4 linked regions of the Homo sapiens genome follow. The protein of the gene in region 3 interacts with the protein of the main gene of each other region in a pairwise test. Each region holds a gene or a part of one and is shown on either strand. Other genes may lie near its edges.

Evidence for each region.
Region 1: the proteins of UPK1B (region 3) and TMEM45B interact in binary tests that used the Homo sapiens proteins (3 or more experiments, as listed by UniProt).
Region 2: the proteins of UPK1B (region 3) and DAGLA interact in binary tests that used the Homo sapiens proteins (3 or more experiments, as listed by UniProt).
Region 4: the proteins of UPK1B (region 3) and CD69 interact in binary tests that used the Homo sapiens proteins (3 or more experiments, as listed by UniProt).

What each region holds. Positions count from the first base shown.
Region 1 is NC_000011.10:129,817,968-129,826,371, reverse strand, and holds part of TMEM45B (transmembrane protein 45B), read right to left. Parts: intron 1-8,404.
Region 2 is NC_000011.10:61,739,121-61,747,524, forward strand, and holds the end of DAGLA (diacylglycerol lipase-alpha), read left to right. Parts: intron 1-56; coding exon of another isoform or gene 57-178; intron 179-344; coding exon 345-541; intron 542-1,342; coding exon 1,343-1,472; intron 1,473-2,041; coding exon 2,042-2,229; intron 2,230-4,411; coding exon 4,412-5,369; 3' UTR 5,370-7,881; downstream 7,882-8,404. UniProt on the Homo sapiens protein: Serine hydrolase that hydrolyzes arachidonic acid-esterified diacylglycerols (DAGs) to produce the principal endocannabinoid, 2-arachidonoylglycerol (2-AG).
Region 3 is NC_000003.12:119,189,535-119,197,938, reverse strand, and holds part of UPK1B (uroplakin-1b), read right to left. Parts: intron 7,695-8,404; coding exon 7,620-7,694; intron 6,958-7,619; coding exon 6,835-6,957; intron 3,721-6,834; coding exon 3,541-3,720; intron 1-3,540. UniProt on the Homo sapiens protein: Component of the asymmetric unit membrane (AUM); a highly specialized biomembrane elaborated by terminally differentiated urothelial cells.
Region 4 is NC_000012.12:9,751,632-9,758,951, forward strand, and holds the end of CD69 (early activation antigen CD69), read right to left. Parts: intron 4,789-7,320; coding exon 4,666-4,788; intron 3,631-4,665; coding exon 3,431-3,630; intron 3,060-3,430; coding exon 2,956-3,059; intron 1,959-2,955; coding exon 1,850-1,958; 3' UTR 855-1,849; downstream 1-854. UniProt on the Homo sapiens protein: Transmembrane protein expressed mainly on T-cells resident in mucosa that plays an essential role in immune cell homeostasis.

The sequences.
Region 1 (8,404 bases), on a different chromosome or scaffold from region 3:
TTCACTGTGTTAGCCAGGATGGTCTCGATCTCCTGACCTCGTGATCCGCCCGCCTCGGCCTCCCAAAGTGCTGGGATTACAGGCGTGAGCCACCGCGCCCGGCCTCTTTATTTGTTAAATAGGGAGTTTGGAAGAGGGACTCTCCATGGCTCTTCTGAATTCTGAAATTCCTTTATGTCTTTGCTCCTCATTAATACATCACAAAAACGAAATGCAGAAGTTGGAGCAAGTTTTGGTCATGGAGAAGGGAGGATGAAACTAAGGCTATGGCTATTACCTACAAAGAAGCAGTTACCAGTTGCCACCTCAGCATACATTAGAGTGAAAGGACATCTCTGGACTTCAAAGGTGGGTTTAGTTTTCAAACAACCAAAAAAAAAAACCAAAAAAAACCTTACATATATTTCTGTAATTAACACTATCCTTAACTCAGCCATGGGAAAGAATACATTTAGTTCAGAATTCTCTTTCTGGGCGCTCAAGGAAAATAATAATGGAAAGATCTCTCCAAAGTCATGGAGTCAAATTTCCAAGATGCCAGGCCACTAAGGAACATTTCTTCAAGGCTTGGGCTCTCTGCCTTCTCCACCTCTTGGAAAAAGTGCTCAAGCTTACAGACAGACTCCTTCCTTCCTTCCCTCAGCATCCACTACCAGTGGGCTTGTTCAGCACTGACATTAGTGAGCAGGCAGAGGCTGGGCCTTCCACTTTACTCAACAGTCCTCCTTGCATAAGCCCTTACTTCCGTTTCCTCTTCCCCTTGCAAGAACTCTCACGCACACCCATGGATTAATCACCACTTGCACAATGGTGACTCCCACAACTTCATCTCCAGCTCTGGCCTTGTCTCTAAGTCTCAGACTCATAGATCCAACAACCTGCTGAACAGACAGACATGCACATAAACGTATAGATGTTTCTTAGACACCTCAAGTCAGTATTTCCAAGACTGAACTCACCATCTTCTTTCCCCACCAAATCGGCTTCTCTTCTCATATCCCAAACTTAGTTAATGGCTTAATGTCCAGTCACCCAGAAAGCCAGAATCTTGGGAGTCATTCTGGACTCTCTTCTCCCCTCACCATTGCCCCCAAAGACATCAAAATTCTGCTAAATTCGCTTCCCCAAGTATCCTGGTATTTTCTCTTTCCCTTCTGTGCCTGCAGCAATGATCTCATTTGGTCTCTCATTGTCTTTTTCCTAAACACTGCGAGGCCTCTAGTCCTGCTGTCCATGAATTCTTCTTCCACCCCGCAGCCAGTCATCCACCTTCCGTGTACATCTGACTACACTACTGGAGGATGGAAAATGTTCCATTGGCTAACCAGCAGCCTGTGGAGGGGTCCACGTCCCCTTGCATTGGGTATACCTGAATGTGGCTCCTCTCCAGTGTCACCTCCCAATTCTCCCCACCATGAACCTGACAGTGTCCCCTTTGCTCATGTTGTCCCCTCTAAATTGCACGTCCTTTTCATTCCTCTTACTTGGTTTCCATATTTAGGCCTTATTTCCTCCAGGAAGCCTCTGTGAATCTCCAGGCTGGGCTAAGCGCCTCACCTCTGTGTTTTCAAAGGACCTCATACATACCATGATTTTTTATCACTTACCATGTTATATTAAAATTATATAGTGACATATGTCTTGCCCATTAGTCTACAGAATCTTCAAGAGTGGAGACCTTATCATCTCCATCAAAAACTAGCACAAGCTTGATACATAATAATAGTTCTTAAACTGAACTGAACTGATGCAGCTTAGCCTTCATCTTGAATCAAGAGAACACCATCTCCTAAATCTAGCCATTGGTAAAATTGTTGGTACCGTTACTATTTTCATACAATTCTTAGAGCTAGGTAAGTCCCTTGATTTCTACTACTGTGTCTCACAGACTGGCATATGTGTGAATCCTTTCCCCCCAGATGATATCTGAAATCACAAGACGAACATAATCCTGGAGTATCAATTTCACCTAAAGATTCTGGAAAAATGATTTTCATTTTAAAACAGATACAGACATATTGTGGGGTAGCATATATTTTTTAGTATTAAGAGAGACTGCACTTATGCCAGGCTGTTCTCAGACAAGTCTCCAGGTCCCTGGGAGTTTAGACTCTATTGTTAGTGCTGACGATTGAGAAACAGTAATCTATAGATCACTGTTTTGCACTGTAGTTTAGTTACTGTTCTAGAGCCTCCCATAGAGAAATAAACAGCCCCAGTGAGACCGAAGCAGGAGCTATCTCAGTAATGGCCAGAAGAGAGGGACTTTCATTGTGGGTCTGAGTTAGGTTTGAAAAGATGTCTGTGTGATTGACAGGTAGGTATTCTGAAATGAGCACAACAATGAGCTTTGTATAATGTATAAAATATGCCAGATTGTAGATCAATGTAGGGGAGGAGGCAGAAAAATGACCATTAGAACAGATCAAAGAGAAGCTCTGGATCAAAGTGCAGGCCGATCAAAGACACTGGAAGGAAGGGAAGGGCACTACAGTCAAGGGATGGAACATGAGGAAAAAAATAATCCAAACTGAACTGTGGCTCAGGAGGGACTCGATGCAGGGTGGTTGGTGATAACCTAAGAAATAATTAGATATTTAGTAGGGTGATATGGGGAGTTTTCAATCCAGGAAATTCTACTTAGAGTCCTAGTAGTTAGAGATCTTTCAAGTTTGTTTTCTTATAGCTATTCCATACCATCAGATTTGAGAATGAGGTAGCATCATCCAAGAGGTGGTGACATAAAAAGATTTAACAGAAACAGAGGAAATAGCAAGGGGACAGGTAGGAAGGGCTAGTTTAAAACAGATAATAGGGTCAATTTAAGTCAACTAACATTTATCAAGTACCTGTTATGCATAAGGCACTGTTCTGGGAGATGGAGTTGCAGGGGTGACAAGCCTGGGCCTGTGCTGTCAGGGAGTTTGCAGTCTTTGTTGAAGTCGCCTAAGAAGGAAAAGCTAACAGCAAAAAATCAGGGTCTAATGGGCAGGCTTTCCAAGTGAGAGGCCTTAAGAAGCTAAAGCAGGAACGATTCCTATCAAACGTAGTATCTGTTCCCTTCACGTGATCTAAAACTTTCCCAGGAAAAAAATAAAAAACATGAATCTGCTCCAAGTTTTGATGATCACTGTGGGGCTGCAGAAGGGAAAAATTGCATGGATTTGGAGGGTGACCTTCAAGGACAGAAATTCTGTCCCAAATTCTAGAGATATTAGAAAAATATTTTCCCAGGCTGGGTGTGGTGGCTCATGCCTGTAATCCCAGCACTTTGGGAGGCCGAGGTGGGTGGATCACAAGGTCAGGGGTTCGAGACCAGCCTGACCAACATGGTGAAACCCTGTCTCTACTAAAAATACAAAAATTAGCTGGGCATGGTGGTGGGCGCCTGTAATCCCAGCTACTCAGGAGGCTGAGGTAGGAGAATGGCTTGAACTCGGGAGGCGGAGCTTGCAGTGAGCTGAGATCGCGCCACTGCACTCCAGCCTGGGCCACAGAGTGAGACTCTGTCTCAAAAAAAAAAAAAAAAAGAAAAATGTTTTCCCAATATAATCCATATTTTGCAAATGGTTATCAAAAAGTAAATTAGTTGTACATGTAGTCAAAGAGTTTTCATTCCCTAGTATCTCAGAGCTTTTTCAATAGAAAATAAAACATGGAGAACATCAGCAACTTCAAAGTGCAGGCGGAGTCAAGGACACATTTCCCATTTTGAATCCTAGACCTCCACCTGTCCACCTTACAACAAGAACCTCCGCTATTAAGCAGATGACATAATAAATACATCTAAGTTATTATGTGACTTTTCTCAAACAGGAATAAATGGCTAGAAATGAGATCTTTCTACAGAGAAACCCATTATATGTACTAGAAAGCACTAGAGACAGATGATGATAAGCCATCAAAAAGGCCTTCTCTGCTTAACCACCCTGCAATGAAGCCAGCCAACCTACAAGCCATGCTCACAGATGACGCACACCATCCCCAAACATGTATAAAGCTTCCAACGTGAAAGGCAGGCCAAAAGCAACATTAAACGTCACTTTAAAAATAGACACAGACATTGTAGGTAGCTGAAGAAAACTTCTAAAATGTAGAAAAAGTACTGAGTTAATATGCTTGGAGAAAGAAGAGAAGATGCTGCGTTCATGAAATGAGAACAGGATACTGTAAAAACCATTCAGAAGACCACACCTCTCGCCAATAAAAGCTCCTGAGAATTAAAAATATAATGGTAGAATGTAAACATTTAATAGCATTGTTGGAAGATTTATTAGAACTAAAAAAACATGGGATATTTTTTAAAATAAAAAAGATAAAATTACAAGACAGATCCAAGAGATCCCATTTTCAGATTCAGTCTAAGTAATTTAAGTTTCAGAAAGAAAGAACGAGGAAATTATATAACAGAAGAAAACCACTCAGAACTGAAGAATGTACTTTTTGGATTGAAAAGGCCTAGAAAATACTTAGGACAGTGACGGATACCTCCCTGTATTCCCCCCACCCCGCCAAAAAACCCACCCCAACATTAAATAACAACATCATGAAATATCAGAATATGAACAATAAAGAAAACCCTACAAATGCCCAGAGATTAGAACAAAATACAAGGGATCAGGAATTAGAATGGCATCAGCCTCTCAACAGCACCGTAAGAAAGTAGAATAAAATAGAGCAATGTTTTCAAAATTCGTACGGGAAATGATTTCTGATTAATATCCCATACCCAGCCAAACCAGCAAGCAAGTGTGAAGGAAGAAAAGTGACATCTCAAATGGGCACAAGCTCAAAAAGCAACCGCATCTTATGGGGCCTGAATCTTATACACTTTTGGGAGCCTTCTTTAAGAAAAAGGCGTAAAATTACAAAAACTGTACATAATTGGGTATGAAAGTACATATGTATTCCACAAGAGATGGCCTAGACAGAAAAAAAAAGTGTGTGTGTATTTAGAATGAGAAAATAAATCACAACAGACAGGGACCGTGGAGGTTCTAGACTCTGTCTTTTCAGATGTGCTTGGAAAATTTACCCCAAATGCTTCTTGATGGCGGCCTGGCGTTTCCTCCCCACTCAACAGCTCCATGCAATTAGCAGCACTCAGAGGGCCCCCATGAGTTTCCTTGGCTCCAGGAAATGACTTCTTGGTGATGAGTTCTCAAACAACTAAAGAAAATGTAGCAACTCCTACACCCCATTCCAGGGGGTTGGGGGAAAGACTGGTCAAGAAGGGAAATGTAAAGATCATGGTGTATCATGTGCCTTAGTTGGGAATAATATATACACCAAACATTGACATATCAAAAATTTAGGATATAACCGTACTGGGAACTTAAAAGAAAGGGATGTGAAGGTGAGAGGGAGGGTGGGGGTGTAAAGGAGCGAAACCCTCATCCTTCTTGGTAGGATGTCAATAGATGTCATCCAGAACTGGAAAAGAGAAGAAGAAATGGCCCGTATCTGCATGCTATTTAGAATATGGTAATATCAGAAAAACACAACCCAAAGCATTGAAAGTAATTGCCGCTAGGGTTCTATACTCAGTATAAACTCAATGAAAACCTTCTACAATGAACGACTTCTAAGACTATACATTGATTTATGTTGACCAAAGCAGATAATTAAAAAATAAAGTATACCCTCAAGAGGAGTGAGGCAAAAAGCTAACAGAAATAAAATAAAGTCGCTTTTGCTAAACTACCTGACATTCGGTGTTTCTCAAAATGTATTCCCGCAACCACCTGCCCTCAGATGACCTGGCGTGCCCGTCCATAATGGAGAATTATAGACCCAGCCCAGACCTACATAATCAGCAGTTCTCAGAGTGGTCCTTGCACTCTACCATTTAAAAAAGTTCCCCTGGACCCACTGCATTACCCATTGCTTTTTAGTAAAACAAACAAAAAACCAAAACAAATAACAACCTATTTAGAGACAGGATCTATGACTCATAAAACACACTATGGCAGATGCTGCTAGCTGCCTACCCAATGTTCATTCTCCCCCCGCCTTATTAACAAAATTCCTATTTTGTTGTTATTATTATTTTTTTGAGATGGAGTTTCGCTCTTGTTGTCCAGGCTGGAGTGCAAGTGGCATGATCTCGGCTCACTGCAACCTCTGCCTCCTGGGTTCAAGCGATTCTCCTGCCTCAGCCTCCTGAGTAGCTGGGACTATAGGCGCCTGCTAGCACGCCCGGCTGATTTTTTGTGTTTTTAGTAGAGATGGGGTTTCACCATGTTGGCCAGGCTGGTCTTGAACTCCTGACCTCAGGTGATCCACCCGCCTTGACCTCCCAAAATGCTGGAATTACAGGCGTGAGCCACTGTGTCTGGCCCAAAATTCTTATTTTGATGTATTGGCAACGTGTCTGTCTCAAACACTAGATTCTCTCTGGTTCCGTCACCGTTAACAGTGTGTATGTGATATGGTTCTGGCCAATGACATGTAAGAAGTCTTTTGGGGTGGGCTACCAGAAAAGCTGTTATTATTATTATTTATTATAAAGAAGGACAGGCCAGGCGTGGTGGCTCACATCTGTAATCCCAGCACTTTGGGAGGCCGAGGGGGGCAGATCACAGGGTCAGGAGTTCAAGACCAGCCTGACCAACATGGTGAAACCCCGTCTCTACTAAAAATACAAAAATTAGCTGGGCGTGGTGGTGCACGTCTGTAATCCCAGCTACTTGGAGGCTGAGGCAGGAGAATCACTTGAACCCAGGAAGCGGAGGTTGCAGTGAGCCGAGATTGTGCCACTGAGAGAGACTCTGAGTCAAAAGAAAGAAAGAGATGAGACAGAGAGAGAGAGAGAGAAAAGAAAAGAAGAGAGAAAAGAAAAGAAAAGAAAAGACAAGACAAGACTCTTCTGGAGCATGCCTCTGCCCGTCTTTCTGCTGCAACTTGCGGAAGTGAGTATGAAAGCTCCATGCTAAGGAGGGTGGTGCGGGAAGACACAAGGAGCCTGTCTCAGATGACGTTCATATCGGAACCCCTTTCCCAGCCCCAGCCTTCTCACCTCCAGACTTCTCGTTCTCTGAGAAAAACAAACTCCTTACTTGTTTAAGCCGCTGTAGTAGGGTTTTCTGTTCTTGTAGCTGAATGAACGTCTAATGACATCTCACACTTTTTCAGATGTTTATCTGACATACCACATTTTATGTATGCCTGCTATGGGCACTGTGCTAGGAATAAGACAAGTAAAGCTCTCTTTGTCATGGAACCAGGAGCACAGTTAGAACAGAAGTTAGAACTTTAGCCACTATAATAACGGCTACAGTTATAATAACAGTTAGAACAGAAGGTCCATAGGCATTTGAGGCTGGGATTCAAGGAGGTTATGTTTGCTGTCACAGACCTCAAACCAAAAGAGTACATCAAAATAAGTCACTGGATTTATACATTTGGCAAATTCTCAAGGGACCACATGACAGAAGGAGCAAAAATCTGAACATTGTTTTTAGCTGTAATTCTCCAATGAAGTAGATTTGGGGAAGCAACATGAGGTACTTGCTTTATTTTTCTTAAATCCGGTTTTCTTCCTTGAAAAACCACAAGATTGGACTTGACAATCTTTAAGGTTATACTCAGCTCTAAGATATTTTTGTAATTATATGGAACAAAGATGGGCATGAAATATACCAAACGAGAGAGTTTCTAAATTTAGATTCTGATAATTCAAGTCAGAAAACATATTAAGTGTTCGGGAAAAACAAATCACAATCTTCCATCACAAAATTCAACAAGAACAACAAAAACCACTCCAGAGGCAGCTGTGGTATTCTGGAAGGAATGTTGGTTTGAGTTCTGGCTCTGCCATTTAATTACTGGCTAACCCTGGACCACATACACAATATCTCTGTTTCCATCTCCTCATTTTTGAAATACGGATTCTAATCTGACCTGAACAGTGCTGTTTACAAACATCGCCTTGTGCTCTATAAAGCCCCATTATGATTTCAACAACCAGCAAGATAATGGCTTATGATATCTAAGTCCTGGCAAGGAGAATGCGGGTGTGTACCTTGCTATATTCAGTTGAACTCTGCATCACATACAGAAGGCTGATAGACCTTTTAGCTTTCCTTTTTCCTCCAGTAGTGTAGCTTGTGGCCATTTAAGTTTTACACAAGAGAATAGAAAAGAGAGATAAAATTTGCTAAAATTCAAATAGTCTATTTGTGTTTGTTTCTAGCCTCAGTGAAGGTTTTGGGGAGAGGGGTAGCTGGTTAAAAGAGTAGAAGCTTAAGAGTTCAAAGAAAGTGTGAGGAGGACAGCACTCACCTGTGGCCTCTAATTGTTCATATTCAGTATGGTCTCATACTGGGAATAATCTAGTGTTTGTCTTATGATCTTTCTATAGAAACAAATATGGAATGTGTCTATAAGTACCATTAGTTGATGA
Region 2 (8,404 bases), on a different chromosome or scaffold from region 3:
GGAGTGATCCAGAATAAGTCCCTTCCCCTCACTAGGCCTGTCTCCCCATCTACTAGATGAGGGGTTGGCTGGGCTTCCAGCCCCTTGCCAGCCCTGAAATTCAACAATTCCATGTCATCTGTCCTTGGCACCTTATTGGCCGTCTGGCCACCGTGCACCTCAGCCACTGCCTCTTCAGGTGGGCACCGACCTTTAATGCTCTGGCCACTGCCCTTCCCCTGCCCCTTTGCCATCTTACTGCCCACCTCTCACCTGCTGAGCCCCCCTTCTCGGTCCCCCTGCCCCTGCCCCCCAGCCAGTGCTACTTAGCTCTGTCCCCATCTCTCCCACTCCACCCCGCGCAGTGGCGGATCATCGTGGGGGCCACCAAATGCATCCCCAAGTCGGAGCTGCCTGAGGAGGTAGAGGTGACCACCCTGGCCAGCACGCGGCTCTGGACCCACCCCAGCGACCTAACTATAGCCCTCTCAGCCAGCACTCCACTCTACCCGCCCGGCCGCATCATCCACGTGGTCCACAACCACCCTGCAGAGCAGTGCTGGTAGGTTCTGCCAGGGTCTGCTGCTGCAGGGGGTAGTGGCCAGGGCAGGGGCAGTGGAGAGCAGGGCCGGCCTTGGCTCAATCACCGCTCGGGGCTGGGGGTGGAGGCTGGGAGAAGATGGCCCAGGGCCTCCATGGAGGGGTTTCCCCAGCATCGGGCTCTGGAAATGGAACAAAAGGCCAGCCCTGAGCAGGACTCCAGGCGTCTCTCTCCATAGTCTGGCTTTGCCTCCAGTGTCAGCCCTTCCCTGGTGTGCCCCAGGGCAGCTCTCCCCACTGGTGGTCCATTTAAAAGTAGGTGCCCTGGAGGGCTCACCCCTCAGGCCCTGGCCAGCTCACACCTCAGTTGTCACTTGGTTTCACCAAGGGAATTCCTCGAAGACAGCTGTGAGCAAGGTGGGGGCTGCGCCAGGAGAGAGAATAGGAGCAGGCAAGTGGGTAGACCTTTCCCACTGTGCTCCTTCAGACGGCTGGGCCCTGGCTCCTCCCTCCAGGGTCGGCTTCCTCCCCTGACACAGCTGGTGAGCTGGGCCGTGCAGCAGGTGGAGCAGGTGTGGCCCAGGCCAAAAGCAGGTCGAAGGCTGTGGAGGGACCATGGCTGAGGCTCGAGGTCAGCCTTTCCCAGGCTGAGGGCAGGGCAGGAGCCAGGCCAGGGAACAGAGCCCTGCTGCCAGGCAGGCCAGGGGCCTCCAAACCATGCCAGCTCTGCTGAGCAGGGCAGAGAACAGAGCCAGGAGGCCCTGGCACCGAGGGCCAGGCCACCACCCCACCCTTAACTCCCCTCTGTCCATGTCCCTCTCAGCTGCTGTGAGCAGGAGGAGCCCACATACTTTGCCATCTGGGGCGACAACAAGGCCTTCAATGAGGTGATCATCTCGCCAGCCATGCTGCATGAGCACCTGCCCTATGTGGTCATGGAGGGGCTCAACAAGGTGAGGCAGCTCCCGGCAGGGTACCACCAGGGAATAAGGCACTGTCACCCCATCAGAACCCCGTAAGCACCATCAGATCACTGCCCGATTTTACAGACAAGGGTGCTGGGGCTCAGAGAAGTAGGTAGCTGGGCCAGAAAGCCCCACTCAAATACTTCAACCTCACACCCCTGGCTCTGTCCACATCACCACGTTGCCCCATGGTGGGGAGGAGATAAGGAGACTCCCAGGGGCCTGTCCCTGAGGCAGGCTCAGCTCAGAGGCCCGGAAGGCCACCTGGCCCTTAACAGATGAATGGGCAAGCAGCGACAGCCACAGCCATCCCCTGGCTGCGGAAAGGCTGAAGGCAGGTAGGGCAGGAGCACTCGCCGGGCTGTGGGGCGAGTCGTGACCAGATGGGCAAGTCTCAGGCCTTGGGGAGTGGTGACCTCAGGAGGAGGAGAGTGGGACCCAAGTGACTCCATGAGGCTTTGCTTGGCCTGAGAGGCCTGGGCCCTGGCTCCACATCGGCCCCACGATGGGGCCTGATGTCCCTCCACCACCCCCAGCCTCCTCTGTCCTGTCCTCAGGTGCTGGAGAACTACAACAAGGGGAAGACCGCTCTGCTCTCTGCAGCCAAGGTCATGGTGAGCCCTACCGAGGTGGACCTGACTCCTGAGCTCATCTTCCAGCAGCAGCCACTCCCCACGGGGCCGCCCATGCCCACTGGCCTTGCCCTGGAGCTGCCGACTGCAGACCACCGCAACAGCAGCGTCAGGTGAGCCTTGGCCACTCCCAGCCCCACCCCAGGGTGAGTGTGGTTCAGAGCACATAGACTTGTGTGCACATGCATTTTGTGCATGCACTGGGCTCAGCTCTGCACACGTGCACAGGAGGGGTCAAACTCACCCTCTGTGCTCTAGGGCTCTCTTGCTGTGCTCCAGCTGTCCCACAGCCTGCTGTCCCTGAATCCTACATGAGCCAGGGGAGGCACACAGACCCACAAACCCTGGGCCACAAAAGCACAGATTCACTCTTTTTTTTTTTTTTTTTTTTTGAGACGAAGTCTCGCTCTTTTCCCCCAGGCCGGAGTGCAATGGCGCGACCTTGGCTCACTGCAACCTCCACCTCCCAGGTTCAAGCGATTATCCTGCCTCAGCCTCCCAAGTAGCTGGGATTACAGGCGCCTGCCACCGTGCCCAGCTAATTTTTGTATTTTTAGTAGAGATGGGATTTCACCATGTTGGCCAGGCTGGTCTTGAACTCCTGACCTCAGGTGATCTGCCCGCCTCAGCCTCCCAAAGTGCTGGGATTATAGGGGTGAACCACCATGGCCGGCCTGCACAGATTCACTCTTACACACTTAGACGCAAACAGATGGACACCCATTTACTTACATATTTGTATTGAAGCTTACACACATACATGTGCACACAATTATTAGTTATAAGTACACAGGTCACCCCCTACAGACATGCACATGTACAAGACACACACCAAGACAAAGGTGGAGACACATATACAAGGACACATGTGGACAGGCAGGTGCTCATGGAAATGCATGAATACACCTGTGCACAGACCCAGACACACAAGCCAGCTGACATACACAGACGTCTGGTCTACACACTCATACACATGAACAGAGGCGTGCACACATGCTCACAGGGGCACGCACATGGGGGCCACAGCGCCCTTGCTATTCACACACTCTTTGAGGGGTGCGAGGCTCTTAAGTGGTAGTCCTTCCAGGGGAGGATTGTCCTGCCTTTCTAGGACCTTCCCACACAGGCCCTGTGTGCTTGGTCACAGATCTGGTCAAGAGGCTGCTTCCTGGCCCTTGGTAGGGACAACTGGACGTCTCTCCCTGCCATTTGTGCATTTCCTGTGGCAGCTGCACAACCCGATGAAGAAGCCAGTGTCCATTTCCGGCTGCGGTGACTGCTGCAAGCCACCCACTCCCTGCCCTGTCACTCATTCCCTGCAGGCTGGTCTGCGGAGCCAGGGGCACTAGGCTCCCCACCCAGCAGAGGGCTGCGGCCCATGGGAGACAGGAGGAGACCCGGATGAGGAAGGAAGTGATGAGATCCCTGGGAGTGGCACCCAGGGTTGCTGGCTCTGAGATTGGGGTGGAACCAGTTGGGCAGCTATGTGCAGGGCTCTCTCCCTTCCCTGTCTCCCTGCTGCCCTCTGTCCCTCCCTCCCTCCCTCCCTTCCTCCTTCCCTCCCTCCCTCCTTCCCTCCCTCTGTCTCTCTCATTCCACTGTGGCCTCATGAGTGACCTGGGGCAGGCTCATGAGTGATCTGGGGCAGCCAGTCTATCAGAGCCTCATTCTCACATTGGTACAATGACAGGGGTTCTGGTGCAGAGAACCCCAGCAGCACTCCTGAAGTCCTAGTGCTGCCAGCAGGGCCTTAGCCCCTCAGGGACCCCGCGGCTCAACCCAGCATCAACTCTTTTGTCTTCTATCTTGGGTTCTTGTGAGTTGTTTTTAAAAAATAATCATTCCTGGCTGGGCGCGGTGGCTCACGCCTGTAATCTCAGCACTTTGGGAGGCCGAGGCAGGCGGATCACCAGGTCAGCAGATTGAGACCATCCTGGCTAACATGGTGAAACCCCATCTCTACTAAAAAATACAAAAAATTAGCCAGGCATGGTGGCGGGCACCTGTAGTCCCAGCTACTCGGGAGGCTGAGGCAGGAGAATGGCGTGAACCCAGGGCGGAGCTTGCAGTGAGCCAAGATCGTGCCACTGCACTCCAGCCTGGGCGACAGAGCGAGACTCTGTCTCAAAAAAAAAAAAAAAAAAAGAAAATAAGCATTCCCTGCTGCACATCATCAACAACTGCTAAATGAACTGTACCCTTTATTCCCTGCAAGTTCCTTTTAGCCAGGGAGCTGGGGTTCAGTCCCCTCTCCCTTCTGAGTCTTATACCCCCTGCTCTCCTCTCCCTCTGCAGGAGCAAGTCCCAGTCTGAGATGAGCCTGGAGGGCTTCTCGGAGGGGCGGCTGCTGTCGCCAGTGGTTGCGGCGGCGGCCCGCCAGGACCCGGTGGAGCTGCTGCTGCTGTCTACCCAGGAGCGGCTGGCGGCGGAGCTGCAGGCCCGGCGGGCACCACTGGCCACCATGGAGAGCCTCTCGGACACTGAGTCCCTGTACAGCTTCGACTCGCGCCGCTCCTCAGGCTTCCGCAGCATCCGGGGCTCCCCCAGCCTCCACGCTGTGCTGGAGCGTGATGAAGGCCACCTCTTCTACATTGACCCTGCCATCCCCGAGGAAAACCCATCCCTGAGCTCGCGCACTGAGCTGCTGGCGGCCGACAGCCTGTCCAAGCACTCACAGGACACGCAGCCCCTGGAGGCGGCCCTGGGCAGTGGCGGCGTCACTCCTGAGCGGCCCCCCAGTGCTGCGGCCAATGACGAGGAGGAAGAGGTTGGCGGTGGGGGTGGCGGGCCGGCCTCCCGCGGGGAGCTGGCGCTGCACAATGGGCGCCTGGGGGACTCGCCCAGTCCTCAGGTGCTGGAATTCGCCGAGTTCATCGACAGCCTCTTCAACCTGGACAGCAAGAGCAGCTCCTTCCAAGACCTCTACTGCATGGTGGTGCCCGAGAGCCCCACCAGTGACTACGCTGAGGGCCCCAAGTCCCCCAGCCAGCAAGAGATCCTGCTCCGTGCCCAGTTCGAGCCCAACCTGGTGCCCAAGCCCCCACGGCTCTTTGCCGGCTCAGCCGACCCCTCCTCGGGCATCTCACTCTCGCCCTCCTTCCCGCTCAGCTCCTCGGGTGAGCTCATGGACCTGACGCCCACGGGCCTCAGTAGCCAGGAATGCCTGGCGGCTGACAAGATCCGGACTTCTACCCCCACTGGCCACGGAGCCAGCCCCGCCAAGCAAGATGAGCTGGTCATCTCAGCACGCTAGCACCCCAGTTGCGTGGCCAGCCGGGCCCAGGCAGGAGCAGGTGGCCCTGTGGGCACCTGGTGCCTGCCCCCTGCCGGGCAGCTTTAAGGACAGACCCCCAGGGGCAGTTTAGCCTCAGGCACAGGCATCGCTGCTGAGCTGGGGGTCCGCATCCCTACCTCAGCTTAGGACCCCCAGAGCCAAGGTGGCTGGGATCTGGCCCCACAGATGGGGAAAGATGGGGAAGGGTGTGGAGTGGGGAGGAGCCTGGGCAGCCTGCTGGGTGGGCCACACTCAGCCTGACTGCCCTCCATGGGGGCATTCTGGCACCCCCTGCTCCAGGACAGGCCATGGGCAAGCTGCCTCCCATCACTGCCTGCTGGCTGCTCTCCCAGGGGCCAGGTGGAGAGCAGTGCCCCCCGACACATGTATTCTCATCTGTGGTCCAGGCCGGCATCGTCCTGGCCACCCCCCAGATCTGGTGCCTGCTGGCCGGCCCCCTGGGGTGCCCCTGCCGAGGTGGCCTGCAGTGCTGTACATGTTTACAGAAGCTGCTGGGCTTGGCTCAGGATGTGTTCTGGGCTTGCAAGCCCCCCGCCCAATCATGTGTTCAGTAGCCGTCCTCTGAGCAGGGCCCAAGGCAGCCAGGGGCCTGGAGGGGCCAGAGGAGGGTGGGGTCAGGGCCGCCCCTTCTCTGCCTTGTGCCTCTCATGCTGCCTCCTCTGCCCATGGGTCCTGGGCACCCAGGCCTGCCCTGCCTGCTGGCTACTTCCTGGCTTACCTTCTACCCCCAAGGATCCTCACCACCCAAAGGGTGGTGGGCACTGCTGTGACCACCCCAGCTGCAGAGTCAGTGCCCTGGGTGGAAGGAAGGCACTGAGAGCCCCCTTCCTCTGAGGGCCCCACCTCACCCCTTGGTGTCACCCCCACCACGCCTAGGCAGCTCTGGGCCCTGGGATCTGGAACCAACACACCCCTGTTCCCCTCAGCTTTCCCTCCTCGCTGGCCTGGGCACCCTCCTGGGAGCAGGCCTTCCTCCCTCCCACCCCCAATGTCCTGTTGGTAGGAGGTGGGGCCAAGAGTGGGGTATGGTGGGCCTTGGCTGGAGACCTCTGTCCACTGCCCAGGGAGGGGCCTGGGGCTGGGAGCAGTCCCGGTTTAGCCTGAGGTCCCCATAGGGCTTCCTCCCCTGCTGGGTTTGGGAAGCAGTTAGGGAGATAGCGACCCGGAGTTTCCCCAGAAGCGGGGTGGGAGGGTGTGCATGCTAGTGTTGGCGCGTATGCATGTGCATGAGTGTGCACCGTTCCTAAGGAAGGGGCCTCTGGGGCTGCCCACCCTACCTGCCCTGCCTGCCTGCTGCCCCTCCCAGCCTGCCAAGAAAACGGTAGGGGAGCATGATGGGGCCTTTGAGGCAGGGTCGCAGGGACAAGCTCAGCTTTAGGCACCATCTGTTCCCATCGCGCCTGCTGCTGTGACCCGTTTTGGAAAACTGGTGTGTACCGAGGCGCTGACTGCACGGCTGACCGCCTGCTCGTGCCTTCATTCTGCAGCGGCATGGTCCCTCCCATTCTGGCTCCACCTGCAGCCTCCCTGGGTGGCCTAGGCTCCCCCGACCAAGAGACCTCCCTCTCATGATCACTGGTACCTGGGGGCCTGAATTCTGGCCCCCGGCTCCCCACACAGCTGGGACTGGCCTGGATGGCTGTCCTGGGAGCCCCTGCCCACCCTGACAGAGGGAGCTGGGCCTCCCCTCATCCTCTGTAACTCCCGCCTTCACCAGACTCAAGGACACCCTGGCCCTGCTGAGGCATACAGAGCTTCAGCCCAGCACAGAAGCAAGACAAAATCAGTGGCTCTTAGAGTTTAGAAAACAAGACAGACTCTCAGATGAAAGATCTGACAAGCACCGTGGCCAGTCACAGGGAGAGACTTGATGTCTGGCCTTTTAATTCCTCCTCTGCCAGGGTGGGTCCTGGGACCTCTAATGTGGGCATGTCGTCCACCCCAGGACGAGCCATCAGGGACAGACCCCCCACCCCCAAGGCTGCAGCCACACCATGTTTCAGGCTTGGGGCTGGGGCAGGCTTGGGCTCAATCCTGGGCACCCAGGGGCAGCCCACCCCTAACCTGGCTCCTACCCACCTCGCCCTTGAAGGATGGGCCTGCTGCACGTCTCCCTCCTCCACCCCATACCACACTGGGGGGTCTGAGCCACCCCCCTCAGCCCCGTTCGGCTCAGACCGACCCCCACTCCATCCCCAGACCTGCAGCACAAGTGCGCGGGCCTGTCCTCCCAGGGGCCTGGGCGACTCCATATGCAATCAGTAGCGAGCAGCCGGGCCCCACAGACCCTCATGCACTCTCTTACGTGCCATTCTCCCCAGACTTTTTTTGTACTTAATGTATGAAAGATCCAAACTAATATTGCTGTAAAAAGGAGAGACAAATTAATATAGCTTATTCTATAAATATATCTGTATATAAAGGTTTCTGTATATTGTATAGAGCTGTGTATAAACTGGATGTAGAAGCACGCTGGCTGCCTCGAATGTCTTTGCATCAGGTGGGGACTGGGTAGAAATTTGATGTCGAGGTTGCAGCAGAGCAGGGGGTTGGCATGGGGCCGGGGGCCGGGGGGGCCTCTGCCACTGTTCCCTGGATGGAACAGAAAGCCTAAGGGGGAAACAGATTCCTTGGGACCAGAGCCCGTTTCACCCACAAGACGCAGGGTGTGTTTGGGTGGTTCAGGTCCAGCCCTTTGTCTGTATTGGGTTAGAACTTCGTTTCTCAAAGTTCACGGTGCTCATGACTCACTGGGGCGCTTGCTAAATGCAGGTGCGGGTTTAGTGGTCCGGGGTGGGGCCCAGGTATAGATTTCTTACCTGCTCCTGCTCGGCTAGTGCCCTGGCCCGGGGCCACACTTTGAGTTGCAGGGAGGGAGTAGAAGACCCTTGAAGCCCCCTGTGAATGAGGGCAGCCACTTGCGGAGTCCTGCCTGTGTGAGAGATGTACCAGCGGGTGCACGTTCATACTACAGCCTGGAAAGATACAGCTTG
Region 3 (8,404 bases):
CTTGTAGAACTTTCCTCCCCAATCTTCCGGTGTCTCATTTTCTCACTTAATTCAAACCTCTGCAAATATCATCTCAACAAAGCCTTTCCTGACAGTGACAGAGAAAAAGACCCTTTCTCCATCCTACTCTATATACTCACCCTGCCTTATTTCTGCTCATGGCCTATTTGGGCCTGGAATTTTATCATGTATTTGTTTGGTAACATGTTTATTTTCTGTCTCCCATGCTAGAATGCAAGCTCCATGAGGGCAGGGATTTTATGTTGTTCACTGTTGAATTTCTAGAACCTAGAACAAGTGCTTGGCACATAGTAGACACGTAATAAACATTTACAGAATGAATGGAACATTAATGTTTACAATAGTATAATTTGCAACACACTTGATGGTTCACAAAACACTCCCATATCTGCTACTCCTTGGTCCTCCCAACAATCCTGGGAGGTGGTCGTTCATCTAATAATATATATATAAGGGCCCACTTATGCCAGGTGCCAAGTACTGGCTGGGCATTTAGCTGTGGCAAACAGAAATGGGCCTTGCCTTCATGAAGCTCACAGACAGAAGCCCCATTTTTTTCACCATCATTTAGTGCCTTTTCGTGATGCTAGTCAATTTAGTGGTACTTTACTTGATCTTCCTTCATTTTATTATAACATTTTTGAGGTATAGTGATCACAATTTGCACATAGCATTTCTGAGTCACATAAACCATAACATAGAATATATATATATTTGCATCTGACATGCTGTGTGAAATTCTAGTTAATTTCTACTATTAACAAGCTTATAGTGACTTCCCTAATTTTGTTAGTCTTCACAGCTATAGCAGCACATTTGTGCATTGTAGATCCTGAAAACCTACAATATGGTTGTCAAAAAGTGAAGCCTGGGCAACACAGTGAGACCTCATCTCTACAAAAAATAAAATTAGCCAGGCCTGGTGGTACATGCCTGTAGTTAGTTGGGAGGCTGAGGTGGAAAGGAGGATCACTCGAGCCCAGGAGCTTGAGGCTGCAATAAGCTGTGATTGCAGCATGGCACTCCAGCTTGGGTGACAGAGTGAGACCCTGTCTCTCAAACAAAACAAAACAAAAACCAGGCTGGGCACGGTGGCTCACTCCTTTAATCCCAGCACTTTGGGAGGCTGAGGTGGGTGGATCACAAGGTCAAGAGATCGAGACCATCCTGGCCAACATGGTGAAACCCCATCTCTACTAAAAATACAAAAATTAGCTGGGTGTGGTTGCGTGCACCTGTAGTCCCAGCTACTTGGGAGGCTGAGGCAGGAGAATCACTTGAACCTGGGAGGTGGAGGTTGCAGTGAGCCGAGATAGCGCCACTGCACTCCAGCCTGGCGACAGAGTGAGACAGGCTCCATCTCAAAAAAAAAAAAAAAAAAAGAAAAAGAAAAACCATTCACTATTCACTTCTTTATTCACCCATCTATCAAACGTCGGTGCTTGCTTTGTGCCAGGCATTATGCTAAGTACTAAAAATATCAAATCTGTAGAATCAAATAATACATAGTCCTCAAGGAGACTCAGAAAAAATAGACTTGGGAACAAATATAGTTCCAGGTAGTGAATGCAATAATAGAAATAAAGTATACCAGGTCTTGGGGTAGCACCTTTTTCTTGGTGGAAAAGGATGGCAAGAGGGGACTTAGCAAGACCTATGAGTCAGGGAGAATGGTGGTGTGTGGGAATCTGGGAGGCTGGGCTAGGGAGAATCAGAAAGGACTAATAGATAAGAGATTATGTCAAAGGAGCAGAATGAGTGAGGTTGAGAAACAAGGAGCACAGGAAGTCAGGAACAGAGAGAGGAATTTCAGAATTCAGGAATTTGGTGGAGGAGTAGGGCTGAGTGATGATGAATTTGTAGTTGGTAGGTAGTGGAGGTGGAGTTGTTAGAACAGATAAAGCCAGGGAACTGTAGGGTAGTGGAGGTGGAATTGTTAGAACAGATGAGGCCAGGGAACTGTAAGGGAACGTGTTAGAAGCATTGTCAAAATGGGTGTGGAGGTCCCAAGGTAGAGGAAAATAGTTCATTTGTATCTTTTCCTCAATTTCTCATCTATCTAAACTTGAGAAAAGCTTCAGGTTTGTCCTCATAACTAAAATATTATATGTGCTAGGAAAAAAGGTATAACTATGAAATAAACTGGTTATCTGAAGACAAATGTCCTATTTTTATCCCTTTCAAAGAGGTAATACAGTTTGTACACAATTACAATCCAATCAAGATTTGTTTGCATGAGCAGTTCCAGTGTTGAAATATCAAAAGCCTTTTATAGTCCTGAGAATAATTATATTGTACACCTTGATTATAAGCAGCAAATTTAATTTTTAATAACAGTCTGAATATAATTGATTAAAACAATGCCAGACAATGTTGCAGTAAAGCTCAATGAGGGTTGCTCTGGACACTGCTGCAAAATAATCTAGAACACTCCCATGCCCTTTTCTGGAATAATGCATCCAGTTCTAGTCCAGGCACCCTGTCAGCAACAGTGCCATGTCCCTCAATCTGAACATGCAGTTTGTACTGCTCCCAAACAAAACAGCCTGACATTTCTCAATTATTTAATGAGCTGGTACACAACTAGCTTTCCTTAAAGAGGTAACTCCCTGAGCAGAGCACAGCGTTTCAGTGTACAGGGTCAGCAGATGCTGACTACAAGTACCTGGAGGTTCTCATCAGGGCTTTTGGGGAATATTAACAAGTCTTCACTGGCTTAGAGTCTGTGCTTGAAGGCAGAAAACTCATGTTTCAAAAGCCAGAGAGTTTTTTGAAAAGACGGACATTTACTAGTTGTGTGACCTCAGCAAGGTATTTATTAGTATCTCTACGTCTAAGTTCTTCGTTTGTAAAACAGGGATCCTACTGGCACCTACTACTGAGCATTAAAGGAGATAGTGTATGTGTGGCACTGGAAACAGTGTTTGGCATTTAGTAAGTACACAATAAATGTTAGTTTTCATGATCGTAATCACATTATCCTCATCAGCCTGGAAACTTTTTCAAAAACTATCTGTATGTAAACTACCTTCCATCCAAATCACCAACCTAATGTTTATTAAGACTGTCCTACTTTACCATTGAATAAGGAATGTGGATGTGTAATTACTACATTTATCCTCAGCAATAGTCATTGCTTTGGAATTGGCAAAACATTCTTTTTGCACATCATCCCTTCCAATTTACATTTTGCAAAACTAGAGCAAAACTTTGTTTAATGTAAATATTTCTTGACATACCAATTCCATACATTGTGCAAATTGTCTTCATTTAAACAAAGTTGGGTTCTGCTATTGCAATTCTCATGTTTTGTTAATTTTATTAAAATGTAAATTTGCCCCTATCAGTCCTGGTTTAGCATTTGCAGTTTATTAACAGAGAAGGAAATAGTTAACATGAGGTTTAGGGAAAAGAATGTAGAATTCCTTACTGAAAGACTATTTCCTACAGTTGACCAATATTTTTCTCATAAAGAGCAGCAGAACCTCCTGGGAAGTCTTGGGAGGAGAGAGGACTCACCTGATTGTGATAAAAACCAGGCACGCCTAGTTTACAAGCCTCCAGGTTGAGAGGTTCTTTAAGATTGTTCATAACACAGCATTGACGAGGCCAGGGATAGTCAGCATCATTATTCTCAGTCCGGAAGGCAGATGTGTATTTTTGCCAGTCTGATGGACCATTTACGCCACAGCAATTGTCCTGTCAGCAGATGAGAGATACAAAATTCTCTTTCGTGGTCCCTACTAGAGCCATCAATGTAGCAACTGAAATTTTATAGAGAAAGAAGATACGGAAAGTGTACCATATCTTACATTTACTAAGAAATCCCCAAATGACAGCTGAAGGTATTGATAACTTACAACTTACATTTTACAGTTTGTAAAAGAATTTTTACACTTCCTACTTTACTAGTCATTAGTGAACCCTGTAGCCATTGACATGTTACTTAAACTGTCTAAGCCTCAGTTTCCTTAACTGTAAAATTGGAATATAGTACCTATCTCATAGAGTTTTTTTAAGGATTAAATGAGTTAATATACTTAATGTGCTCAATACAGTGCCTGGCTTATGGTAAACTCTTAATAAATGTTAATTATGATTGATACTGTACTAATATATTGATATAACAATGTGAGAGAGGAATAATTATTCTGATATATCAGAGCAAATTGAGAATCATAAAATTAAAGATTATATCAAAGCAAATTGAGAATCATAAAATTAAAAATTTTAGTGGTGAAGTTATGAGTAATTGTTCTTGTTTTGCTTTTCTATACATTTAAACATTTTTTAGAGTAATTAGGTATTATTTTTATAATGGGAGAAAATAAAGTGAAAAAAATAACCTGGTGACACAGAGCTATGTCTCCACATAGGGGAGGGAGACCAATTAATACATCCCTTACACTCTGGATAGAATTGAGAATAGAGGACAAAACACAATTCATATAGCTTTCCTTCTTTGTTATCAATTCTCCTAAAATCCTTCAAAAGGGAGGAAGTTAAAACCATGGGTATCTTGGAACTTTTAGAATGAATGTATTCAAGTAAACTTGATGATAAATCAACCATCTTTAAAGGATATACAATTTTGTCACTATGTTATGGGAAATATCTAACCAAGAAAAATAATTATTCTGCATTCTGGGAAAAATGGTTAAGTCTAAGCCAGGCTTATTTCAAACTAGGATTTAGTGGGCACAGAGAAGATTTAAGGGTCCAAAATTGAGCTTTGTAGCACTCCAAGCTTCAGATTTGGGTAAAGAGTGACAACCCAGCAGAGGAGACTAAGCGGGAGTAGTCAGTGAGACAAATGCTGATAAGATGTCAAAGAAGATGAGGACAGAGACTTGGCTATTGGATTTGGCAGGATGGAGGTAATTGGTAATTATGGCAGGGTTGTTTTTGTTGAGTGGTGAGGCAGAGGCCAATTGTAGTTGGATGAAAGCAGATGAGAGGGATGAAAATGGGACCACAAGTGTAGGCATCTCTTCTGAGATTTGCTGTGGAATAAAACAAAACAGTAGTAGGACAGAATAGTGGGTGAATGTTGGACAAGGGAGTCTTTTTATAAGATAGACAATTTAAGGTGTCCATGTAGGCTGTTGAAAGGGAGAAACTGATGAGGCAGATCAGAGCAGGGAAGACTGTTGGGGCAAAGGAGATGGAATGCAGAACAGAATCAAAAGAGCTGGACAAAGGACAGCCTGTGTGACATAACAAGAGAGAAGGCAAAGTGCACAGGTGTATATCAATGTAGATTTGGTGGTAGAAAGATGAGGTGGTTCTTGTCTAATTTCTTCTATATTCTTAAAAACATATGAGGTCGGGTCATCAACTGAGAGGGAGGGTGAGAAGAGGTGTGGCAGGCATGAAGGAAGAACATGTGAAATAGTGACAAGTGAATTTTCTGGGAAAATATACTAGGAAATATTGTGTGCCCATTTGAGCTCTGTGGTCACAAGTTTAAATTGAAATGATCATGGTTGTGTGACTTTTCTCAGCAATGTTTAGCTCTTAGAGTATAAACGAAGAGTGAGCAAAAAGCTATATTCTACTCGGTGGGCTTGGTTAGGAAAGAGTGACCCACAGAGAAGGGTAGGGAAGGACTGGCTATGGGGCTGGACCTGAATATGGGTTAGGCAAAGAGGAAAGAGAAAACATGAAAGGGGTGATAAAAGTTAAAAAGTGGTCAATTAATTGGAGGTCCTAATGGAATAAAATTATTAGAATTGAGATATTAGAATAAATGAAAGAAATGATAGAAATTAATGGTCAGAGAATGGAATGTTCTTAGTGGCACAGTTACTGGTGATGGCATGCTGACTATGGTCATGGAAGAGGGTGGAGGTGGGGAGAAAGACAAAATCTTTGGAATGGGGTAGGACAAGGAATTGTGAGACTAAATGTTGCTGAGTCATCCATGTGGCTGCTGAAGTTTCTAGGTGGGATATCAGGAGTATGACTGAAGAGGTAGATAGTTAAGTGAGATATTGAAATCCCTAATGAAGGCAGGAGAACGACTGAGGGTAGGGAGGCTGGTAAGTAATGGCAAGGAAGGATAAGGGGTGATGTAGATCAAGGAAGCAAATAGTATGGCAGCCAAGGGGAGCAAGAAGGACACCTAGCCAATTTCCAGGTCCTATGGTACATGGATATGGGAGGAAAATGAAGGGCAGGTAGCACTCCCAGGAGATAGCCAAATTTCCAATGAAGCAAGAAAAAGATAGTAAAGAGTTCATAGAAGGAGTGGTGGCTATAAGGGAGTTTGCTGATGACAGACTGTAAAAAGTTGGTGGTGGGGTGTGGAGTAGGAGCAGGGGCCAGTAAGAAAGCTAGGTCAGATTGGTAGTTATGTAGAGGATAACAATTTGCATACAGAGGGCAATGTGGGGGTGATGATGGATATTCTGGAAGACTTGGACTTTTGATGGCACTGGAGATAAACATGGACATAAACTATGATTGCCAGTTGGAGAAAATTGGGTGATCAAATCAAGATATAGGGCCTGGTCCTTGGCAAGACTAGCTCACAGGAGTTGTGAAGAGGTACCCAAAAGGCGAAACAGGCAGTAATTACCACTCGAGTTCACTGTGGGGTAGAGAAAATATTTTTCTTTTAATGTAAATGATACCTGAGTTCTAAGAGGGAGAGTGTATGATTAACCTAAGTTTCTTGACAAAATCATTCCAACAAATGTAAGCTAATCATCATGGCTTGAAATAAAATATAGGGTCCCACTGAGTCATGTGTATGACACCCACTCCCACCAGTAAGTAAAAATGGCATCTCCCCAAGACCACAGGTCTTACCTGGAGCATGAGCCTGTCCCAGGTTTTGGTGACTCCATTGTTTTTCCACTGGTCATCATTGTTTGGAGGGCTGTTGTTTTGGTACCTCTCTAGCATCTGCTTCAGGAAGAGGTTGGGTGTGAACTATAGTAGGAAGAGGCAACACAAGAGGGAGAGATAGCACGCTAATTTTCAAGGAGAGGAAAATATTTTTCTCTGTCTTTTCCTGGGGACACTGAACATTCTCTCCTGGAGCAAAACTGTACTCAGAGGCACCAAGTACAGCTGGCTGAGGTTGGCATAAGTCCCCATGCAGAGAAGAGACTCTCATCTTAAAAGAAATCACTATGAGGCCAGGGGAACACATACTGTAGGGTGGCTTAGGCTAGGAAAACAGAGAATGGGAGAGAAAGAAAGATGTAGAATTGAGAGCACGTCTTAGCTGAGGTAGAACAGAGATCCTCCCATTGGAAGGCCCATGGCCATGGCAGAGTGGTGAAACCCACAGGGGATTACAAACTTGGGCCCTGGGAGTCAGGCCATCTGGGTTCAGAATTCTTGCTCTTTCAGTTGCCAACTATGTCACTTTAGACAAGTCATTTTACCTTTCTGTCTCATTTTTTTTCCTTTCTCAAATGACCAGAGTGATAATGCCTATTTCATAGATTTATGAGGATTAAGTAAAATGATAGATGTATTATTACTGTGCATATTGGATTGCCTGGGCACATAGTAAGGGGTTAATACATGTTGGTTGTTATAATAATGATAATTCATATTATTTTGCTTTTTGAGGTTGTACTCACAAAGTCTTGTTGTGTTGCTGCTGTGATACAAGATGCCACTTCAAAGGCATATACTATAAACATCAGAATGAAATACTGGAAGGGAAATAAATGAGATAAAAGAATTACATTTACCCGTCAAAGAGCGACTTGCCCAAATAATTATGTTTTTTCAGCAAATTTATCATATAATCATGTAATCACTCATGTAGTTATTCAACAAACCCTCATTGACCAGTGGCTTGGATTGAGGCTTGGTGCTAGTCAGCTCAATTCTCTCCTTTTCTCCAGAGAACAAATAGCCATTGAATACAGACCTTCCTCAGTCCAGTTTCCTGAGTTTCTATTTTAACTGGGAAAAACAAGTACAAGAGAATGAACTGGTGTGTATGTGTGCACACACACATGTGAGCATTTACATGCTCATTTACATGTGTGCATTTACATGCATGTGCATGCTCAGTGAGTGGCAAGAGAGTCTTAGTGTATCACATACAGTATAGGGCCTCATAAATCCCCTTTAATTTTGGAATTTTGGAGAAATTTTCTTTACAATTTGCTGAAAATTTAGAATCACGGAGTTCAGAAAAAGATGAACTGGATAATGTTGAACATCTAGGGTCCTTCCTAACAAGCATCCAGTCTCATCAGAGGAGAGGCAGGCTTCAAGTGCACAGCATTTGTGGGTGTTCTTTCACACGCACCCACACTCAAAGTACATTGGTTCAGTTGAGTGAAATGGCATTTGCTGTGTGTGGTAGTGGTGGTGTGTGTGCGTGAGCATGGGCACATGGGTGCGTGTGCAC
Region 4 (7,320 bases), on a different chromosome or scaffold from region 3:
AGCAGAGAAGAATATTGCAAATTACATTTATAAAACAATTTTGAAGGTAATCAAATGTATTAGGCTATTCTTGCATTGCTATAAAAATATCTGAGACTGGGTAATTTATAAAGAAAAAAGGCTTAATTGGCTTACGGTTCTGCAGTTTTTACAAGCATAATGCTGACACTGCTCAGCTTCCGCGGAAGCTTAGGGAGCTTTTATGTATGTTGGAAGGTGAAGTGGAGTGGGAGCAGGCATGTCACATGGAGAAAGCAGGAAAGAGAGAGAGAAAGAGAGAGAGAGAGAGAGAAAGTGCTGCACACTTTGAAAAGACCAGATCTCCTGAGAACTCACTCAGGTGCAAGGAGACCATCAAGAGGATGATGCTAAACCATTCATGAGAGATTCGCTCCCATGATGTAATCACCTCCCACCAGGCCCCACCTCCAACAAAGGGGATTACAATGCGACATGAGATTTGGGCAGGGACACACATCCAAACTACATCATTGAGTTTTTTGCTGATTGAAATATCCCATGAAGATTATGCCTCTTTTCTATATATTGAATTATTTTACATAAATAACTAAAGTGTATGTAGCACCTCAGAATTGAACAAGATACTTTCAGAGCATTGACTATGAGGAGTAATTATTACAGAGCATCTGCTATATACAGAAAAATGGATATGGATACATACACCCTTTAGCATATAAGCATATGAAAACAATTTGATATGTATAAGCTATTATAAAACTAAGGGTTTTACTCTACATGGGATTTTTTCCTAAGTTATAGTAACTGTTTTCTGCTTTCTCATATAGTATATACTTTTTAATGTATTTTGAAGGAATGAACTTTCTTGGAAACCATTGTGTTTATTCTACTTTTATTTCACATATATAAAAACAGCTTATAATTGTACTGAACACAAAATACAAACAAATACATTTTATTGCACATAAAAATATTTTAAATGAAGTATTGAAGTATTGCACGTAATAGAATTGATTTAGGAAAGTCACAAACCTATTATAAGACTAGTATTATTCTAGGTCTGAAGATTACAGAATATTTCCTAATAGAGATTTGCCACATCACATATTGCACATTTTCCAACACTATTCTATGTCTTGCAAATATTCCTCATAGTCTTTGCTTATGTCTTTTCTCTGTAAGACACTGTATAAAAGATTATAAAGGCAAAGAAATATGTACCATCGAAAAGGACCTGTCTACAGCTGAGGAAGTAAAAAAATAAATACATGATCATCCCATTCTTTTTGGGGAAAAATAACAAAGTAAATTGGCAAATTTCTCTAAAAAGAGAGAAATATTACAAATCTTAGTTTCATAAGCATTTGTCCATTTATAAATGCTCCCTGAGTTTAAGGGATTCAATTAGACTAAAAACCTATGTTACCAGCCATAATTCCTTTGTTTACATTCAGTATCTAGTACCAACATCTAACTCCTTCCAATAGTGCAAATGCATGAAGGGCTCTCACTGTTGGTAGTCATTCAGCAATAAATAGTAAGTCCACGCCTAGTTATTTCATTATTTCTGGATTCAAAATAATATAAAGTGCATCCAAAGGTTGCATAGTCATTCTTCTCATTCTTGGGCATGGTTATTGGTCAACCTGTGATGCTTCTAGCTCATGGCAATAAAAGCCCACAGTGCAGATTTTCCTGGAATTTCTTCCTTTTTTTCCATAGTTCTGTTTGGAAGAAAATTCCCAAGACACTATAAAATTTTTTTTCACAAAGTCTCTATGGAAGACTTCGGACCACAGAGCAGCATCCACTGACACAGATTTCCTTGAGTTCCATTCTATAATAGTCAATAAGTGAACATGTTTCCTTATTATTTGTAAGGTTTGTTACATATCCAGTATAAATTCTTCTCACATTCCATGCTGCTGACCTCTGTGTTTTTCAGAAAAACACACTTGTCAGACCCTGTAACGTTGAACCTGTCAAACAATAAAAAAACTTAGAATTATTTTCAGCTCATTGTTTTCATTCAGTTACATGAGAATGAACTCGGAGATGGTGACCTCTGCTTCTTTTAAATTCTTAGTGGGATACACAAGTCAAATAATCATAGACTAATCTGTAGAGACAATGGACAAGAATTGAAAAAAAAATAGGATGTGGAGAAAAAATATGGAAGTAAGAGGAAAGCACGCCATTCATTTGGTTGGCATGGCACCAGATAAGTGATTCTTGGTCATTTCTGAGTTCATAGATTTTTCAATAAATAATTTCACAAAATTGTATGCATTCAACAGCCATGCATACTAGTGCATACAGCTTTAAGGGGTTTATGGCTCCTGAAGCCCATCTGTGGATATGGAGCCATAGGACAAATATTAGGAATCCCTTTTCTAGAAACCTGAATTTTAATCTCGATACTTTATCAGTATTATGATCAACAGCAAACTTATAAAATGATCTTCAAACATTAAATGTATTTTAACTAAAGGTAATGAAAATAGAGTATCTAATTCTGGGGCAAATTTTCTTTCAGGTGTATAGAAACTCATAATTAGGCATTGAAACTATTCTTTATTCTGTGGAGATGAAAACTGAGAAATAGTAAGAAGGATTTATTTTCCAGCAACTGTCTTATTAGTAAAGACTAAATGTGACATTGAAAATGGGTTTTTGTTGCATCATCATAATTATTATTGAAATATTTCCAAATTAACCAGATCTACTACTCACATTAGAGTTTGCTGAGAAAAATTACTATAAGCATTTATTTTATGTATTATAAGTGTGGATAAAGAAAAAGAATAATAATAAAGCCTGTTATTAAAGAATTCCAGAGTATACGCATTCAGAAGAGATTGTTAGAGCTCTTGAAGAGCTCAGCCTTTATATTTAAAGTGCTTTGAAAGGAGAAAAGGAAAGTGATTTTCCTGAGATGCCACCCTGGGGAATATAAAGAGACTTCTGGAGACTTACCAGTTGTTAAATTCTTTGCCATTTGACCACTTCCATGGGTGACCAGGTTCCTTTTTCAGTCCAACCCAGTGTTCCTCTCTACCTGCGTATCGTTTTAGAAAGTTCTTAAAGAAAGCACAAAGGAGTTTGTTACATTAAACACCCTTCTGGGGAAGTAGATAGTAAATCCTGTTTCTCAAAAGCTGCAACTTGAGGCATGACAGCTTATCTGACCATGTACTCATTCTATATAGGATCAGCATATTTGGATTTCTGGTCTTTGAAGCTAAGCAATCAAATCAAATTTAAAAGATTAAATTAAATCTCATTTTGACCTCAGGCTGATCATATGGTTCTCTGGGATGACATTTTCCTACATCTGAAATAGGTACAATGTTTGTTTGTTTGTTTGTTTTCTCCACTTAGAAACGGAAGGAAAGCACTGATTAGCCATATGAATTAAAATAGTAGTATTTTATCTTTTTTTTATTCTTACCATGTCCTTTTCAGAATCAATGACAGCAAGAGTAGCACCATGTTCAGAACAAGCATTTTGGGCTGAAGTCCAGCTCCTCTTCACAGTAGAAATAAAGTAGCATTTCCTCTGGTAGCCAACCCAGTCCTCAGAGCATGAAGAAACATGGCTGTCTGATGGCATTGAGAATGTGTATTGGCCTGGACAATTGTATTGGCCCACTGTGAACAGAAAAATGCTTTGTTTTAGTAACAAAAGAAACCAAATACCCACAGCATGCAAAACTAGCCTTAGGATGCTATGTTGTGCTAGGTGGTGATAAAGTAAAGGATAAAAGCTAAAAAGTAGAATTCTGAAAAGGGTATGAAGAAAGAAAGTTCTCAGGACCATATCTGATCTTCCATTGTGCCTAATCATCATTGGATGGAGATATGAGGATGAGGGGATGTACTTTTGGTCATAATGTCAGAAAATGACAGAAATATAGAACAATTCTGAAAATTTGGACTAGATATTTCTTTGGACTAGAAAGGATAAAGTGCATTATACATTTCAAATAAGGTTTTGAATCTGAATGCAGAGGCGGAAGAATTTGAAGATGCAGTATTTATAGCACTAGGCTGGAAAGATGGAGAGAGTAACTAACTTTTAGGGAACCAATTCAAAATACAGAAAGACATATGACTCAGAATATCTCAAAACAATGGTAAACATTCCCATTTGTAAAAGATACAAATATATCTTGGTACAGCTGGAGGTATTGAATACCAAATCACTACTGACTCTCTGGGAACTTTTAAATATAATCTTAATTATTCAGAACTACCATTCTGTGTCCTTTGAGATAAAACACAAAAGACTGGCCACTTCCTGATTAATCTATGGCTTTAGATACGATTTTTTTCCATAATCAATGAATGTGAAGTTCACATTTTTTTCTAGCTAAATAGGTATTTATTCAGAATTCAAATCAGCTCCCTTCATTCTAGATGTAAACATCTTTTCAAATGCAATTTTATTCTACAGTAATATATAAATCATAGATACTTTTAATACTTATAAAAGTATTACATTAATTATTCAAGGATTGTGGAATTATGTTTAGTATTGATTAGGAAATTGGCCATATATGGTACATGGGATGATTCTGAATTAGCTAGTTTCTGATTAACTAGACTAAACTAATATTGATTTCAGCTGGGCATGAATGCTTACAGCTAGGAGGCTTTGAAAGAATTGATGAAGTGTAGACCCACCTGATAAGGCAATGAGAGCTATGATTAAAATGGTGATGAAGACCACATTCATTACAGCACACAGGACAGGAACTTGGAAGGACCCTTCATGACGTGTTGAGAAATGGGGACTGGTGGCATCATCTGGAAGGGAGAAAGTTGATGATGAGTTCAGGCAGACTATAGAAGTACTATAGGAATATGCAACATTCTTTTGAGGCATTTAAACTTAATATTTCCTATCTCATTATATGAAATTTCCCCGTCTCTTTATAGAAATTTCTAAGTTAATTTACCCCCAATTTTGAGTGAATTTGAATAGTTTATTGTTGGCTTGAAATGAAACAATTCAAGCATAATGATGAGATTATAAAGTGTCTCCCCAAAATATTTACCTGACACATATGATTTATACACTTAGTAACTATGAAAATTCTAAGTATATAATCAGTTTGTTTTAATGATGATAAGAACGTTTATTAAATATGCACATGCCCCAGAAGACACATAAAAAAATTCTAGGGCATGGTGGCTCACACCTGTAATCTCAGCATTTTGGGAGGCCGAGGTGAGTGGATTGATCACCTGAGCTCAGGAGTTCAAGACCATCATGAGCAACATGGTGAAACCCTGTCTCCACCAAAAATACAAAAAATTAGCTGGTCATGGTGGCACGCACTTGTGTTCCCAGCTACTTGGGAGTCTGAAGTGGGAGGATCGCTTTAGCCTGGGAGGCAGAGGTTGCTGTGAGCGGAGATTGCACCACTGCACTCTAACCTGAGTGACAGAGTGAGACCTTGTCTAAAAAAATAAATAAATAAATAAATAAAAAATTCTAGCATAATTCCTTAATCTCCTTGTAGTTACTGTTTGAGAGAAATGATGTGAATGGGATAAATATGGATAATATCATAAAGTAAAATATTGAATTGCTATATAAATATCTGACATTAAAATGACTGAACAAAATTTTAAACGTGACAGTATTTTTTGGTGAAGTTGCTGCAGATGTGGAGCAACTGGAATTTTCAGATATTATTGGTGGGAGAGTAAATTGGAAAAACACTTTGGAAACTGTTTCTTATAAAATTAAATATATGCCTTTTCTATGGCCCAACAAACCTACTCCTATGTATATCCTCAAGAAAAATGAAAATATGTTCTCAAAATGCCTTGTGCAAGAATGCTCCTAGCAGCTTTATTCTTAAGAGCCAAATTCCAGAAATAATCCAAATATCCACCAACAGGAAAATAAGTGAACAAATTATGGTATATCCATACAAGGGAATTCCGCTCAGCAATTCAAAATAAGACAACTGATACATGCAACAAAATGAAGGAATCTCCAAAAAAAATGTTGAGTGAAAAAAAATCCAGCCACAGAAGATTGTATACTACATATTTGCATTTACATGACTTTAAATAATAGTTGGTCTAAGCTCTGGTGTCAAAAATCAGAACAGTAGTTGCCTTTGTGTGTGTAGGAAAGGTAATTTAACTGGAATGGGACACAGGGCAAACTGTCTAGGGTGATGGAAAGATTCAAATGTTGCTGGTCTTGTGGTTATACCACTGTCATAAGTCGTTAAACTGTATACCTACGAGCTGTGCATTCATCGTATGTGAACTAAACCTCAATTTAAAATGATATGTGAATGAACAGTAAAAATTTGAATTTTTCAAAAGATGTTAAAATAATAGAGGAAATGTAACAGTATTATAGACCAAATATTCAGCGAAAGTTATTTCATTTACCCTCTGTACAATGGTGAAACAAAGTAAAAGCCTTTTTTTTTCCCAACAAGCAGTGTTTCTATGGAAGGATTTAGAATAAAAATATGATGTTAACGATAACTGATAGTTACAAAAAACTCTAAGAGGATGTCTGTTCTACACTCTAAGTAAATAACTGAGGAAGGAGAAAAGAGAATTTTGCGACTTAGATTTTGGATTTTAATTTTGCAGGATGAGCTGTCAGGAGTCTTAAAATGCGGCCCCACAAGGAGTATACAGGTCCCTATTATGTTCTCAAAAACCAAAATGTAAAATGGCTGCTTAAGTAACTGACAATGCAAAACAGTTTCAAAATAGAAAACATTCTATTTTTCAATATGGATGATTTTCATAACTTAAAAAAGTTTACATAAGACATATCTTGAAATACACATATTTTTACCCTTAAAACATTTATCTAAAGGTAAACTGGACCAAGAGAAGTTGCCTTTTTTTCACAGTAATTTACTGGGTACTGGTGTCCACATCAACTTTTGCTTTATCTGGAAGTTATTTTTCCCATCACAGATCGGCACTCAGATTTTGCAAGAGAAGCCTTTACTTCACTGCCGTCTAGCTCGATTTTCTCAGCTTCTCAAAGCAAATTTTTCTTTGTTCACCGGTATAGAATCATCATTGGAAGCCGCCTTTGCTACCCAAGGTACCAAGTTCGGAGCTCTGTCTGGTTTCACTTCACATTATGTGAGTCAGTCGTGCTGCTTGAACTCAGTATTGCAACAGCTCTGTCTCCTCAGTGAGCACTAACACACCCCAGTGACCCGTGGGTTCCAGAGTCTCAGTCAGCCCATCGGCTCAACGAGGGAGTAAGCTTTGGGATGACTCTCAGATGATACTTTATTCCCATTAATGAGGGCTACTGTTTTATTTATTTATTTTTTGAGA